Homo sapiens: one gene and its partners. The protein of the gene in region 1 purifies or fractionates together with the protein of each later gene. This does not show direct contact. Each region holds a gene or a part of one and is shown in the gene's direction. Other genes may lie near its edges.

What was found. Proteins that work in one complex are often made in the same cells at the same time.
Region 2: the proteins of ZNF2 (region 1) and ZC3HAV1 purify together in Homo sapiens (affinity purification with mass spectrometry; 2 studies listed by BioGRID and IntAct, with this or other methods). This does not show direct contact.
Region 3: the proteins of ZNF2 (region 1) and PRDM15 purify together in Homo sapiens (affinity purification with mass spectrometry; 2 studies listed by BioGRID and IntAct, with this or other methods). This does not show direct contact.
Region 4: the proteins of ZNF2 (region 1) and ZNF800 purify together in Homo sapiens (affinity purification with mass spectrometry; 2 studies listed by BioGRID and IntAct, with this or other methods). This does not show direct contact.

Annotation. Positions count from the first base shown.
Region 1 is NC_000002.12:95,172,309-95,175,808, forward strand, and holds part of ZNF2 (zinc finger protein 2), read left to right. Parts: intron 1-3,500. UniProt on the Homo sapiens protein: May be involved in transcriptional regulation.
Region 2 is NC_000007.14:139,082,221-139,085,720, reverse strand, and holds part of ZC3HAV1 (zinc finger CCCH-type antiviral protein 1), read left to right. Parts: intron 1-1,688; coding exon 1,689-1,941; intron 1,942-3,500.
Region 3 is NC_000021.9:41,802,845-41,806,344, reverse strand, and holds part of PRDM15 (PR domain zinc finger protein 15), read left to right. Parts: intron 1-1,730; coding exon 1,731-1,811; intron 1,812-3,423; coding exon 3,424-3,500. UniProt on the Homo sapiens protein: Sequence-specific DNA-binding transcriptional regulator. Plays a role as a molecular node in a transcriptional network regulating embryonic development and cell fate decision.
Region 4 is NC_000007.14:127,379,209-127,382,708, reverse strand, and holds part of ZNF800 (zinc finger protein 800), read left to right. Parts: intron 1-3,500. UniProt on the Homo sapiens protein: May be involved in transcriptional regulation.

The DNA of each region.
Region 1 (3,500 bases):
CCTCTCAAAATCGAAGTTTCCAGCTGCCAGCGAAGGGCCAGCATGCAAGCAGAACTTTCTAGGAATAGCAGTCTCAGGTCTGCTGTGACTTTTCTGCACACCACCCTTCTTTCCTTCCTGTTATTTTTTTCTGTACACCAAAATAAGGACTTACTCTTGTTGAAAAAAATATATGAAGAATGGTAAGAAAATAAAAATAACTTATAACTCACCACTCAAATTTCATTTACATTTTATTATGTGTTTTTCCTTTTTCTATACATAATGTGCATGTACAAATATGTAATTTTAAAAGTGTGCATTCTTCAAGTGTTTTGAATTTCTTTGTGGTTTTTTTTTTTTTTTTTAGATGGAGTCTCACTCTGTCACCCAGGCTGGAGTGCAGTGGCGTGAGCTCAGCTCACTGCAACCTCTGCCTTCTGGGTTCAAGCAATTCTCCTGCCTCAGCCTCCAGGGTAGCTGGCACTACAGCCACGTGCCATCATGCCTGGCTAATTTTTGTATTTTTAGTAGAGACGGGATTTCACCATGTTGGCCAAGCTGGTCTTGAACTCCTAACCTCAAGTGATCCACACGCCTCGGTCTCCCAAAGTGCTGGGATTACAGGTGTGAGCCACTGCACCTGGCCGTTCTTTGTGGTTTTTTTTCAGTTGTTGATTTTTTTTTTTTTTGTAAGAAACAAAGCATTACAGATAAAGCTGAAGTATCCTGGGTATCCTTCCCCAGTCTTATTTCCCTTTCTTCTCAGATATGTACACATTTGCTGCTTATTGTCCCATGTGTTAATAGATTTTTGTAGGTATTATTTACCTGTTTTTAAATTTTATGTAAATATTATACAGTAAGTCATTCTATAACTTATTTTTTGCCCAGTAATTATGTTTTTGTAATTTATCTCTGTTAACATGAGATAATGTATAATATTCATATATAATGTATAATACACATATTCATATATAATATTCATATATGAGATAATGTATATATATTCACAAATCCTTTATCTGATTAATGGACATTGAAGTTGTTTGCAGTTTATCACTAGTGATCTTCTCCCCAGTGACTTGTAATGCCACCTCAGTCATACATCAGGCTTCCCTAATGTTTGGATATGTTTTGGGATTTTCTGTTCTAGTCTATTGGTCTGTAATTGATGTGGCTATCTTTTCATGAAAATAAATCATGGTAGCATGAAAGTTAAAACCTCCCAGGCAGACATGGTTTCAAGTTCTACCTCAGATTCTTACAAAGCCTTAATTTCCTAATCTGTAAAATAGTGCCTACCTTATTGATTTATGAGGATGGAGTTAAATTAGCCTTATAAAAAGCACTTAGCACAGTACCTGGCAAATAGAAAATACTCAATAATGCTAGTTGTTATTAAGATGATGGGTTTTTTTGTTTTGGTTTGGTTTGTTTGAGATGGAGTCTTGCTCTGTCGCCAGGCTGGAGTGCAGTGGCACGATCTTGGCTCACTGCAACCTCCGCCTCCCAGGGTCAACCAATTCTCCTGCCTCAGCCTCCCAAGTAGCTGGGACTAAAGGCACACGCCACCACGCCCAGCTAATTTTTTTGTATTGTTAGTAGAGACTGGGTTTCACCATTTTGGCCAGGATGGTCTCCATCTCTTGACCTCATGATCCGCATGTCTTGGCCTCCCAAAGTGCTGGGATTACAGGCGTGAGCCACCGTGCCAGGCCAAGATGATGTTTAATAGTGTTCCATTATATGTATGGACTGGGCCATAAATTATTTAACCAAGTCTCCAGATGTTTAAGGTATTTCAAATTTTTGCTGCCTTATTGAAAAGATTAAATGAGATAATACATATAAAGTGCTTAGGAAGTGCCCTGGAACATAGCTGTCAATAAGGGTTAGTGTTAATGATGAGTCATAAAAAGCTGTGTATATATCATATATCATTACTTATTTCCTAGTATAAATTCCTAGGAGAGAATTGCTGGGTCAAACAGTATGTTTCAAGGCCCTTGCTATAAGTCACAGTGATTTTTTAAAGCACGGATGTGATGACATGTCCACACCCAAATCCTTCAGTAATCTCCATGCCTGTGGAGAAAGGGCCATGCAAAGCTCTCCTCGATGAAACTGGCCTCTGCCTACCTCTTTTCCCTCATCTTCCCCACAGCACTGCTCACAGCCTAGACTTCTACCATTCTAAGCTAATTTTTGTTGTTAATCCTTTCCATGTAAAGACCTGCCTCCTTCTTTTTGAAAAACTTGAGGTTTTTTTCTCAAGATTTAGAATGTTCTAGCTCCTCCCACAAATGAAAACTTAGCTTAGATCCCACTCCTGTCAAGAAAGCTGCAGAGTTCCTCCTTCCATCCCTCCCTGCTGGGTTAGGTGAGCCTCTGAGGTGCTCTCATGGATTGCTGTGCATATCGCTTTGCTGCTCTTAATGCATCCTGGAGTGAAATATTATCTCATTTACTTGTTTGTTCTCTGTGCTAAGCTATAGCTTCTGGAGGACAAAGACAGTGTCTGACAGTTTTTCTGTGCTTGATGTAAGTAGTTGGTGCTGAATAAATGCTGGTTGAATAGAAGGATGAATGAATGAGTCACAAGAAGCAGTGACCATATCCCCTTGACTGTTGGAGAATGGTCAGTGCACCGCAAATATGCCTTTTCCTCCTCCTCACCAGGACCACACCATCTCCCAGCCACCATAAATCCCAGAAATGTGGGATTTAATGCTCTTGTTTTATTTTTATATTTTTTTATTTTTATAGAGACAGAGGTCTTGCTATGTTGCCCAGGCTGGTCTTGAGAACTCCTGGCCTCAAGTGATCCTTCCACCTCGGCTTCCCAAAGTGCTGGGATTACAGACATGTGCCACCGTGCCTGGTCTGTTGTTTTAATTAGACTCTTGATTGTGAAAAACTGAGACTTAGCTAATCCCAGTAAAGGGAATTAGTGATAAGATCTTGCACAGAGCCCAAGAGAGTTAGAGTATTATGGCAATCTATGAATAAATAAGGATGGTTTGCATGGAAATTGGAGCCCATGGGTGGTGCTAGGCGAGGTGAGGGCTTCCCCAGGAATTCTTAGGTCTTTGCGTCAGTGTTTCACCGCTGATGGGACTGCGCTGGGCTTCCCCCTGCCTGCCTCTGGTCCCGTGGTCTATTATGACCTTTTCTCTACCTTGTACCTCCCATGTGCCCATGGGTTCTGCTGCTGGTAACTTTGGTTCCCCGATCCTTGTGGCTGCTTCAGGACGTCCTTTCATGATATCCTTTCAGCTCGTCACCCACTTGTCCTGACATTTCTTAGTTCACATTCCCAAGGAAGGATGTCATCTTTTCAAGCCAGATCACATCTCAATCTACTAGTCATGTGTGCATTACCCACCTGTGGCCTAATCAGTGTGGCTCCGGGAATAAGACACAGGGTCACATGGTACAAAACCTGGCTGCCCAAGGGATGCTCCTTTAGCAAGGGCTATGAGTGGGGTATTTTTCCTTTGAAGAGACTGGATTGTCTT
Region 2 (3,500 bases), on another chromosome or scaffold:
TGCCTGGCTGATTTGGATTTTATCAGAAGGAAAGAGGAGGAAGAGAGGGGCGAAGTTAAGTGTAAGAGGCAGTGCAGAGAAACAGCTTTGTGGTTTAGGGGGTGTGAGATGGGGACCACAGTGAAATGTTTCCAGTCACTTCATTGATTGCTTTGCATTCATTCAACTAACATTTAAAAGCACCTGCAAGTGTTAGTCACAATGTTAAAATACTGGAGGTAACCAGTGGGAAGCCACACACTCAGCCCTAAAAAACTACGTATTCACACTTTTTCATTTTGCTTTGACTTGTGAGAACATAAAAAGATCAGGCAAACCTGACTGCCTGATATATAAACTTGTACAATTGAAATGTGCTTCTTAAAGGAAGAAATGCTTTCATTTGTTCTGGTCTAATGAAGGCAGGAGCATTCTTGCTTAATATCGGCGTGGGAATAGGAATGTTACCAAAACATCATTTGTGAAGTTGCTAATGGTGCTTTTTTGCTACAGCTCAAACTTTAGCGGACATCAGAATCATCCAGAAGGTTTGTTAAAACACAGACTGTTGGGCCCCACCTCTGATGGTTCAGACTCTATAGATATGGGCAAGTGCCTGAAGATTTGCATTTCTAACAAATTTACAGGTAGTGCTGATGGTGCTGGTCCGGGGACCACACTTTGAGAATTGCTGGTCTAGAGTCTAGAATCTGGATCATAGACTTGATAGCAGTTACATATATCTATTTGAATCAGGTTTTAGCGATTATCCATGTGGCAAAATCATTGCTAGTGGGGTTTGAATCATGGCTTGCCATCTAGACAGATCACAGTGAACCATACTGATCTGGTTTGCTCAGAGTCTATCGAAGTGACTCATTAAAATGTCTGAAATTCAGGTTTCTTACTAATTATATTGGTTTCCTCATTTCATGGTTCAAACACGTGCATCACACTTTATATTTTGCATAACGCATTTACAAATTTTGCTATTTAGTCTGCTTAACAACTTGGTTTTTGTAGACAGAACAAATCTTTTCCTCCTGTTACAGCAAAGGAAACGGAGGCTAAGAGTAGGTAAGGGATCCCTTGAGGTCACACAGCTGCTTCCAGGGCCTCAGATTTTAAAACCAGCATCCTCCAGTTCTGTATCATATGGCGTGGCCTCAGCTGCAGTATTTTCTCTGCCCTCTTTCCAGTAGGGACTACATCTCTTCAGAGCTAGTCACGTACATGTATCTATTTAGATGGAAATACAAAACTTATCTTCTTTAGGCAATCTTTTGAGAAATGTCATTCTGCCTAGCAGAGTCTAAATTTTGGATTTCCAAACAGTTGCAGGTAAGACCCACATGTCCTTTTCATTGCAAAGTGAGTTGATAACCAAAGATGAGCCTTCCTGTGCTGGGTTCCTTCATGATATAGGGCTCACTTTGGGTCCTGTTTGTAGCTAACCAGCTTACATTGATTCTTCCAAGGGTTATCAAATTGATCAGTATCTTTTGGTTAGTCTGTGGACCTCTTCTGCCCCAAGTAAATCACCAACTGAATGTGACTCATCAAAGACTGCAGAATATGCATGTATTTTTCCCCCTTTGGTATATCTCTGCTTGCTTCAGAGATTTTTGCACACGTGAGCTTGCCTTAATGAATGTTTGGCAAATACAAGAAGGTGTTTTGACTCTGGCTGTTGTTTCTCCCTTCTGTAGATATGCAAAAGTTATAAGGGAGAGGGTCGGCAGCAGATTTGTAACCAGCAGCCACCGTGTTCAAGACTCCACATCTGTGACCACTTCACCCGAGGGAACTGTCGTTTTCCCAACTGCCTCCGGTCCCATAACCTGATGGACAGAAAGGTGCTGGCCATCATGAGGGAGCACGGGCTGAACCCCGACGTGGTCCAGAACATCCAGGACATCTGCAACAGCAAGCACATGCAGAAGAATCCCCCAGGGCCCAGAGGTAAAGGCCTTTTCTTTTTCAATTGTGTGAACTCTTTTTTTTTTTTTTTTTTTGAGACAGAGTCTCTCTCTGTCACCCAAGCTGGAGTACAGTGGCGTGATCTCAGCTCACTGCAACCTCTGCCTCCCAGGTTCAAGTGATTCTCCTGCCTCAGCCTCCCGAGTAGCTGGGATTACAGGTGTGCACCACCACACCCAGCTAATTTTTGTATAAATTAGAGACGGGGTTTCGCCATGTTGGCCAGGCTGGCCTTGAACTCCTTACCTAAGGTAATCTCCCTGCCTCAGCCTTTCAAAGTGCTGGGATTACAAGCATGAGCCACTGCACCCGGCCAATTGTGTGAACTTTCAAATCAGCAGAAATCACAAGGAAAGAAAAACTGCCATAATCACTCTACCTTGCCGTGTAAAACTCTTCATTTTCCCTTCCAAACTTCATGCATATGTATACACCATTTTTACATAATTATAATGGTAGTATACATGCAGTGTTTGCAATTCAATTTTTATGCTTAGCACTATTGCCCCCCCCCCCAGGTTTAAAAAAGTGTATATCATTTTTCTAAAAACTAATTAACAAAGCTTTTTTTTAAGGAAAAGAAACAAACATAAAATTGTTTAGATTTATCAGCTGTTAACATTTTGTCCCAATTGCTTTAGCACTTTCTTTCTCTCTATGTATACATGCAGCTACTCACACACACGTAGAACATTTTGGTGTTTAAAGCATTTGATATATGTAAATATCATGACATTTCACACCTGAATATATCAGCATGTATCTCCTCAGAACAAGGCCATTCTCTTACATAATCACAAGACAATTAATACAGAAAATTTATTATTGATGCAAAACTATGTATAATTTAATTTATGGTCCTCAGTGCCATTTCTTTAAAAAAAAACCAATATTTTAAAATTTCTAAAAAAAGCCACAATAACTCCCATTCCCTTCTTTCCCCAGCCCCTGGCAACTAACATTCTGCTTTCTGTTTGTATGAATTTGACAACCCTAGGTACTTCATATAAGTGGAATCGTACAATATTTATCCTTTTCTGACTGGCTTATTTCACTTAGCATGATGTCCTCAGGGTTCATCCATGTTATAGCATATGTCAGAATGAATATTTCATTGTATGTATATAATTATAAATTTTTTATCCATTCATCTGTCGATGGATATTTGGGCCATTTCCAGTTTGGCTATTGTGAATAATGCTGCTGTAAACATGGTGTACAGATACCACTTTGAGACCCTGTTTTCAGTTCCTCGGGGGTATATAATCAGAAGTAGAATTGCTGGATCATATGGTAATTCTATGTTTAATTTTTGGAGGAACGATCATACCATTTTTTGTAGCAGCTGTGCCATTTTTCATTTCTGCCAGCAGTGCACATGGGTTCAAATTTCTCACATCCTCTATCATTTTGTGTTTTCTGATTTTTTTTTTTAATAATAGCCATCCTAAGGAGTATGAAGTGCTATTACTTTTTTTTTTCTTTCCTGTTTTGAGACAGAGTCTCACTCTGTCACCCAGGCTGGAGTTCAGTGGTGCGAC
Region 3 (3,500 bases), on another chromosome or scaffold:
GGTGATGGTGATGGTGGTGGTGGTGATGGTGGTGGTGGTGATGGTGGTGGTGATGGTGATGGTGGTGGTGGTGATGGGTGGTGGTGATGGTGGTGGTGGTGATGGTGGTAGTGATGGTGGTGATGGTGATGGTGATGGTGATGGTGGTGGTGGTGATGGTGGTGGTGGTGATGGTGGTGGTGATGGTGATGGTGGTGGTGGTGGTGATGGTGGTGGTGATGGTGGTGGTGGTGGTGGTGATGGTGGTGGTGATGGTGGTGGTGGTGATGGTGGTGGTGATGGTGATGGTGGTGGTGGTGATGGTGGTGGTGATGGTGGTGGTGGTGATGGTGGTGGTGATGGTGGTGGTGGTGGTGATAGTGGTGATAGGAATGGCAGTGGTGGTGATGCCACGTGGTGGTAGTGGTACTGATGATGGTGGTGACAGTGTTGGTGGTGATGAGGGTAATGATAGTGATGGAGGGGGTGGTGATGGTGTTGTTAATGGTGATGGAGGTGGTTGTGTTGGTGGTGATGGTGTTGGTAATGGTGATGGAGGTGGTTGTGTTGGTGGTGGTGGTGTTGGTGTTGATGGTGATGATACTGATGATAGAGGTGGTAATGATGATGGTGGTGGTGGTGCTTATGGTGGTGATGGTGGTGACGGTAGAGAGTGCGTCCACAGCAGTCTGGTTGCTTTTGCTCAGGGTCCTTTGCGAGTGTCACAGTATAGATCTGTGCTCAGTGTCAATGAGAGTTACACTGGAGTCTTCAAAGCCATTGCAGGATTTATGTTAACTTAAAACACTTACAGACCAGCCTTTGTTTGCCATCTTTTCCAGGAAGGGGCCCAGACCTAGTCATGGAATGTAAATTTAATGATGCACTTCTCTCCTTTTTTAAATGAGTTACATCCACAAAGCATAGTCTGCTTTTTCATTTTAACTTCCTTTAGTTGATCAGAAATTTAAAGATGTTTGCAAAGCTGTTTGGGTGAAGCACCCTTACAGGCAGACTCTTGCTAATTTTGTTTTGCAGCCCCTCCCCTTTATCACGTTCGGCTGTCTCTGTACTCGTTGTCCGTTGTCTTTCTTATGATCTAATTAGGTCATCACAGGAACAAACGCAACTGCTGTAAGCAGGGTGTGGGCGGTGAAGGTCACTCACTTTTGGGCAGGACGCACTGAGCTGGTGGGAGGGCCCCTGTGGACACATGGGGCGTGCTGAGGACCCCGTTCAGTGGGGCCATTGGAGGGAAGGTAGGGGCAGGGCGTCACTTCATCACAAAACCAACAAATGAAAGCACTTGTGTATGGATTCAACTGAAAAGTACGATGTGTAAGGCACAAATGTCTCATTTTTGGTGATTGCTCATAGAACAAGTTTACTCTACTGTATCTTTACCTTGCTGTGGTCTCCCTTGGAAATAACAGAAGCGCCACTGAAACCTCACCCCTTTGGTGGGGGGCCAAAAAGGGAGGACATAGTCTCCCCACTGGGGGAGTGGACGTGAGATGATACAGGGGCAAGACCATTGTGGGAGCATGAAATAAGGGGTGAGGATAAGCCCTGGGCTTCTGGACACAGAGTTTCAAAGTCAGAGCTGAACAGAGGAGACTGGGAAGTGCGGGGGATGCCTGGGAGGGAAGGGCAGGAGTGGTGGAGGTGGTCCCAAGGCGTGTGTGGCTTCTGGGTTCCCACCTGCATCAGCAGCACCCTGACCCCCAGCTCATGCCCTGTGCTCCTCATAGGTGCTCGCGGTGAGGATCGATGACCTGGACCACCTCCCGGAGACCACCACCATCGACGCCTCCTCCATTGGCATCGTCCAGGTGAGCAGCATGGGGCCCCAGGGGCTCAGAAACTTTGGGGTAAGTGGACACCTGCAGAAGGGACCAGAGGGGCTTGGACAGGCCGGGAGGGAGCAGCTCTGGGCAAGCCTGTGGCCAGGTTACCCTGTTTTCTTGGCTTCTCTTCCCCTCAGAACCTCTTAGATCATCTCCTCGTTTCTGTAGTTTCTGTGACCTCAGTTTGTTGAATACTGGTGTATCTCACTTTGGAAAACAGATGTTTTCCAGAAAAAAATAGAAATTAGAACAATTGGCTGGGCGCGGTGGCTCACGCCTGTAATCCCAGCAATTTGGGAGGCCAAGGCGGGCAGATCACTTGAGGTCAGGAGTTCAAGACCAGCCTGGCCAACGTGGCAAAACCCTGTCTCTACTAAAAGTACAAAAATTAGCCAAATGTGGTAGTGCACGCCTGTAATCCCAGCTACTCAGGAGGCTGAGGCAGGAGAATTGCTTGAACCCAGGGGCGGAGGTTGCAATGAGCCGAGATTGTGCCACTGCGCTCCAGCCCAGGCAACAGAGCGAGACTGTGTCTGAAAAAAAAAAAAAAAAAAATCAGAACAATCATTAAAATGTTCTAAGCAAAATAAGTTTAAACATACCAATTAGATGAACTTAGTTTTTAAAGAAATTTTTAGTTAATACTAAACTTTCAGTTAGCAAAATTTTTTTTTATTTCAAAGAGAACGTGCCATGCTCTCAGTGGTCTAAGATCACATGTATGCCTCTCGTTCTGAAACAGCGCTTTAGAGTGCAGTCTTCATGAAGGGCACTGGGTCCGGCTGAGTGACGTACGGCGGCTCCAGCCCCAGCCCCAGAACCCACAGGCCATTTCTACCCTTGGCAAGTCACAGGCATGGGGGGGACGGGTCGTCCCACCATGACAGCGGTGTAGGCCCACGCTGGGTCTGTCTGCCACTGGGTTAGGATCAGGTTGTGTGGAATGGCACAGGAAGCCCAAGAGGAGTGGCAGGTGACCACTCACCGGCCACCACTGCCCCGCGGCCTCTGTGAGCCTGAGCGAGCCTGGTGAGCCGGCCCGGTTCAGAGGATGTGGTCACAGCCCAGCAGTGTCCTGGACACTTGCAGGGAATCGTGCGGGGAGGGGCCCACTGGGCTCACCACTGCAGCTGGGCCCTCGTTCCCTGTCCCTGCAGGTTTTGTGGTCAAATCTGTTTTAATTCAAAATTGTTTTTTATGGTGGATTCGTCTCAGCCCTGGGGAAGAGAGAGCCCTGATTTGAAAGCATTTTCAGCCTTGCTCTAGCAGCTCACCCGGGCAGAAACATTTCCCTTTGGAAATACCCAGTGGCTTAAAACGTTAAGTTTCTAAGAAGTGTTTACATTTTAGCATAAAATACAACTTTTAAAAATATGACTTGCATGTATTTTTTTTTTAAATCTGCAACTAAAGGAACTTGCCCCGATCCTTAGAAATACAAGACCCAGCTGTGGTCACTGTTTCTTGTGGCAGCTCGGTGGCCCACAAGCGTCCCCACTGATTGGAGAGTGTGTCCAGGGCAGTGCTGGGGCTGCCCTGGCCGCTGCCTGACGTGACCGACTAACCTGGTTCTCGGCTGAAACCGATTTTTCTGCAGCCTGAGCTGACTCTGGAGCAGGAGGATTTGGCCGAAGGGAAGCACGGGAAAGCTGCCAAGCGAAGTCACAAGAGAAA
Region 4 (3,500 bases), on another chromosome or scaffold:
GTTGACATCAGTCCATAGATAGATGCCTCATTTTTTAAGAAGCCTGCAGGTTTTGCAGCTGCAGGTTTTCCACTTGGAAATTCCTGATGATTGGCTGACTTGAGACCTGCTGTTTGCTCTGAACCCCTGGTTTCTTCTACTACCTTGACTGTGCCTTACCCTTTGTGTAGTTTGGCTTTGGCTGTGTCATTCTGATAGGATCATGTTTCTAATATGGTGTCTTCAAATTTCCCTCCTCTCTATAACACTTTCAGTTTATCTTCCTTCCTCTTTGACCTCTCTCCCCAAACCAAAACAAAATTTTAAATAGCAGATAAAAAGTGTACTACCTTTACATATTTATTAAATATCTTTTATGTGTTTATTAAATTGGTTTAGTTGAGTTCAATATTCTTTCAGAATTTCTTAGTTGTGTGCTAGAGGCAAAGGAACTATGGAATGCCCCTATGGTTAGAAAGAGAAAAATGAGGGGAAAAGAGAAGGATAATTTTGTCTGGTATTCAAGACTGGTCTTTAATATGAAGCTGACATCTTCTTTTTAAGTTCTTGAAATATATAATATTGTAAGAAGAGAAATATATAATTTGTAGAAAAAAGATTCTACATGTAGAATATGCTAGAGCAGTACATGCAGGGAACTCTTTTTTTGACTCTTAGGGAGGAATAAATTGTAACTTTAATTGTATGGTAATGAAAAATGAGAATTAGCTTCATGTGATGTTTGCTGTCATTATCTTTCTAAATTTGGGTTTGGTCATTTAACTTAGGCTTTTTTTTTTCTCCTTAAAACAACTTTAATTGCAATTAGTTTAAGCTCTGACTGAATGGTGATGCTTCAGTCCTGATTCTGAAGGCAAAGCGTAGGGTGGACGTGATTTTTCTGAGGTACATAGGAGAGTGCCATACCTATGATGGCTTTTTCTTTTTTTGTTGTTATATAGCAGTTATAGGAAATTTAAAATGGGACTTTTTTTTATAAGAAAAAAGTAGATTTGTTTTCCTTACATTCATATTCAAAGCATGTCATCTGGTGTTACGTTCCCAAGACAACAGCCATTTATATTGGTCTGAGTTTCTCAGTGGGGGAAAGACCGTATCTTTCATATTTCCAATGAGTAACAGTGTACCTGGTATTTAATGTGTGCTCAATAAGTGTTTGTTAGATTAAACTAAAAGATTCCCCAAGTAGGCACTGTCCTAAGATAATTGTATTCTACTTAAGTTTATTGTGGTATGTGGCAGTGCTCTATAATTAACATATATATATATTTAACCAGCCCTTACAGGTGATAGTTTTAGGATAGAACTTTCAATTTCTTAAGTTTTCTTTGTATCTTTGAATCCTTACGTTAAGGATGATCAGTAAGAAATTTCCTTCAGGAGTTGTGATGAGGAACGTACATTTATTTACTTGCAGTGTTTTGATGATATTGTAGTTAAGTGGTCATCCTAAAGAAGATTGAGTTTATATTTGAGCCAATAGTAAGCAAGCAGTATACCATTTAAGAAGCATTCTTGTCATCACTTAAAATGGGCATTGACCAAAATGTCAGTGCATTAAGTAAGAAAATGAAACCTTGTCTTTGTCTAGCATAGAAGAGTTAGAATTAATATTGTCATATTGTAATGTGACTGCCATCCAACCTAATGTAAAATTGAATACTGATTCCTTTTGAAAAAATATTTTAAACATTTTCACCAGTACATGCAATGCACTTGCCATTAAAGAATAACACAAGATAAACCCTTGATGAAGTTTAAGTAATTTTTATTGAGCACCTATTAGGGGTGAAAATCTGGAATATACAGTCATTAATCTTTAGCTATCAAAAGCCTTTCCTTTGGAGGGCTGGATGTTTGAAAGGTACTGATCTATGTAAGCAGTAAGTGGTGATTTCTAAGATAATTTAAAACCCTAAGGCAAGAAAGAGAGCAATATAGGAAAAGAAGAAGGAAGTCAGCATGGCTCTCTGTTTCTCAGCATCAAGAGCTGTGGAGGAACTTTATGTTGCTGTCTGGATGACCATGTCTGTTGTCTCAGGTGACAGGAAGTTTTAGCTATTGACAGAGGCACTTAGAGTTGGCTGTGTCCAATTGTAAGTGAGCAGAGCAATCAGAAAATGGTAGCTGACTTTGAAGAAAGCCATTCTGTCTCCATGGGAAAAAATAAAAAAATCTTAAGTGGTGTCTGAAACTAAGGGAAAAACTTTTATTATCTCTGTTTGTGGACTGAGACACACCTTATTTTTCTCATTTGTTAACTATGTAAGTGGAATTAAAAAAGTTTTAAAGTCTCATTTTTGACTCCTCAGTTAACTTCACATAGATTTAAAAAATCTAATTTTTAGAGAAGGTTTTTTTAATACATAGAGCTCTGTAGTATTTCATTTAGCAAATATCAGTCATGCATTATCCTGAGAGCTGGGGTAGCGGTGAGCATCAAGAATATCTTCTCTGTTCTAATCTTCCAGTTTAATGGCGATATGGAAAAGAAATTAATTACAAAACAGTGGATAAGCTAGTATAGATATCTAGGGTGCTATGAGAGTGTAGGTGAAGGATTTTTAACAAACAACAACAAAAAACAAGAGGTTGATTATTGAAGGCTTCTTGGAGGAAGTGACATCTATACTGGGATCTGAAGGATTATTAGAAGTGAGTCAGATCAGGAAAGTGGGAGAATGTTATAGTCAGAGAGGAAAAAACATAGGTGAAGGCCTGAAAAGTGAGGGAAAGAATACATTTGGTGTATCTGTGGACCTGAAAGAAATCTGGACTGCTTGGATCAACGATACACACACTTGCGCTCTCTCTCCCTCTCTCTCTCTCTCTCTCTCTGTGTGTGTGTGGGGGGGGTGGGGGGGTGGGGGGGTGGCAAGGGTAAGGGGAAGCATTTGTGATTGATAATTAAGATTGATTAGTTAAGGTTAGAGGCAAATACTTTTTTTTGGATGTTTATTGAGAATAAATATGCAGTCCCTACTGAATATAACTTAACTGTATAATTAGGACTAATTAAGAAATTGATAGTGTCTTTATTTTTCTGTGATTGAGAAGCTGGTAGGCAAAGTGATGTGTCTGATTTAGGGATGCAGTCTTATATTTTACACTTGACTATTTTTTATGTATAACCTCATGTTTACAGACTGATTATTTTATGCTTTAAATCTGCAGCCATGTACATGTATCCTATTTAAATCTTAAGTTGAATTCTTAAGTTAAACCGAGTTCACATTATTTTGGTGTTCCTCTTCAATCTTTTTTGACTATCCTTAAAGGCAGAATTGAATCTGTATTATGGGTCTAGCAGGTTTTGTAGTTTAGAATCAGTGTGCAAAAGTTTCCTGTTTTCTTCCCACTGCTACTATGCTCACCTACATTTCCTGAGAAATATATATAGGTCAATTAGGCTTAGCCAAAGCATTTTTTAAAATCAGTCTACCTCTCATAGTTTGTCACTCACTTATGAAGTTAACTGTGAACTAAATATATTAGCAGTC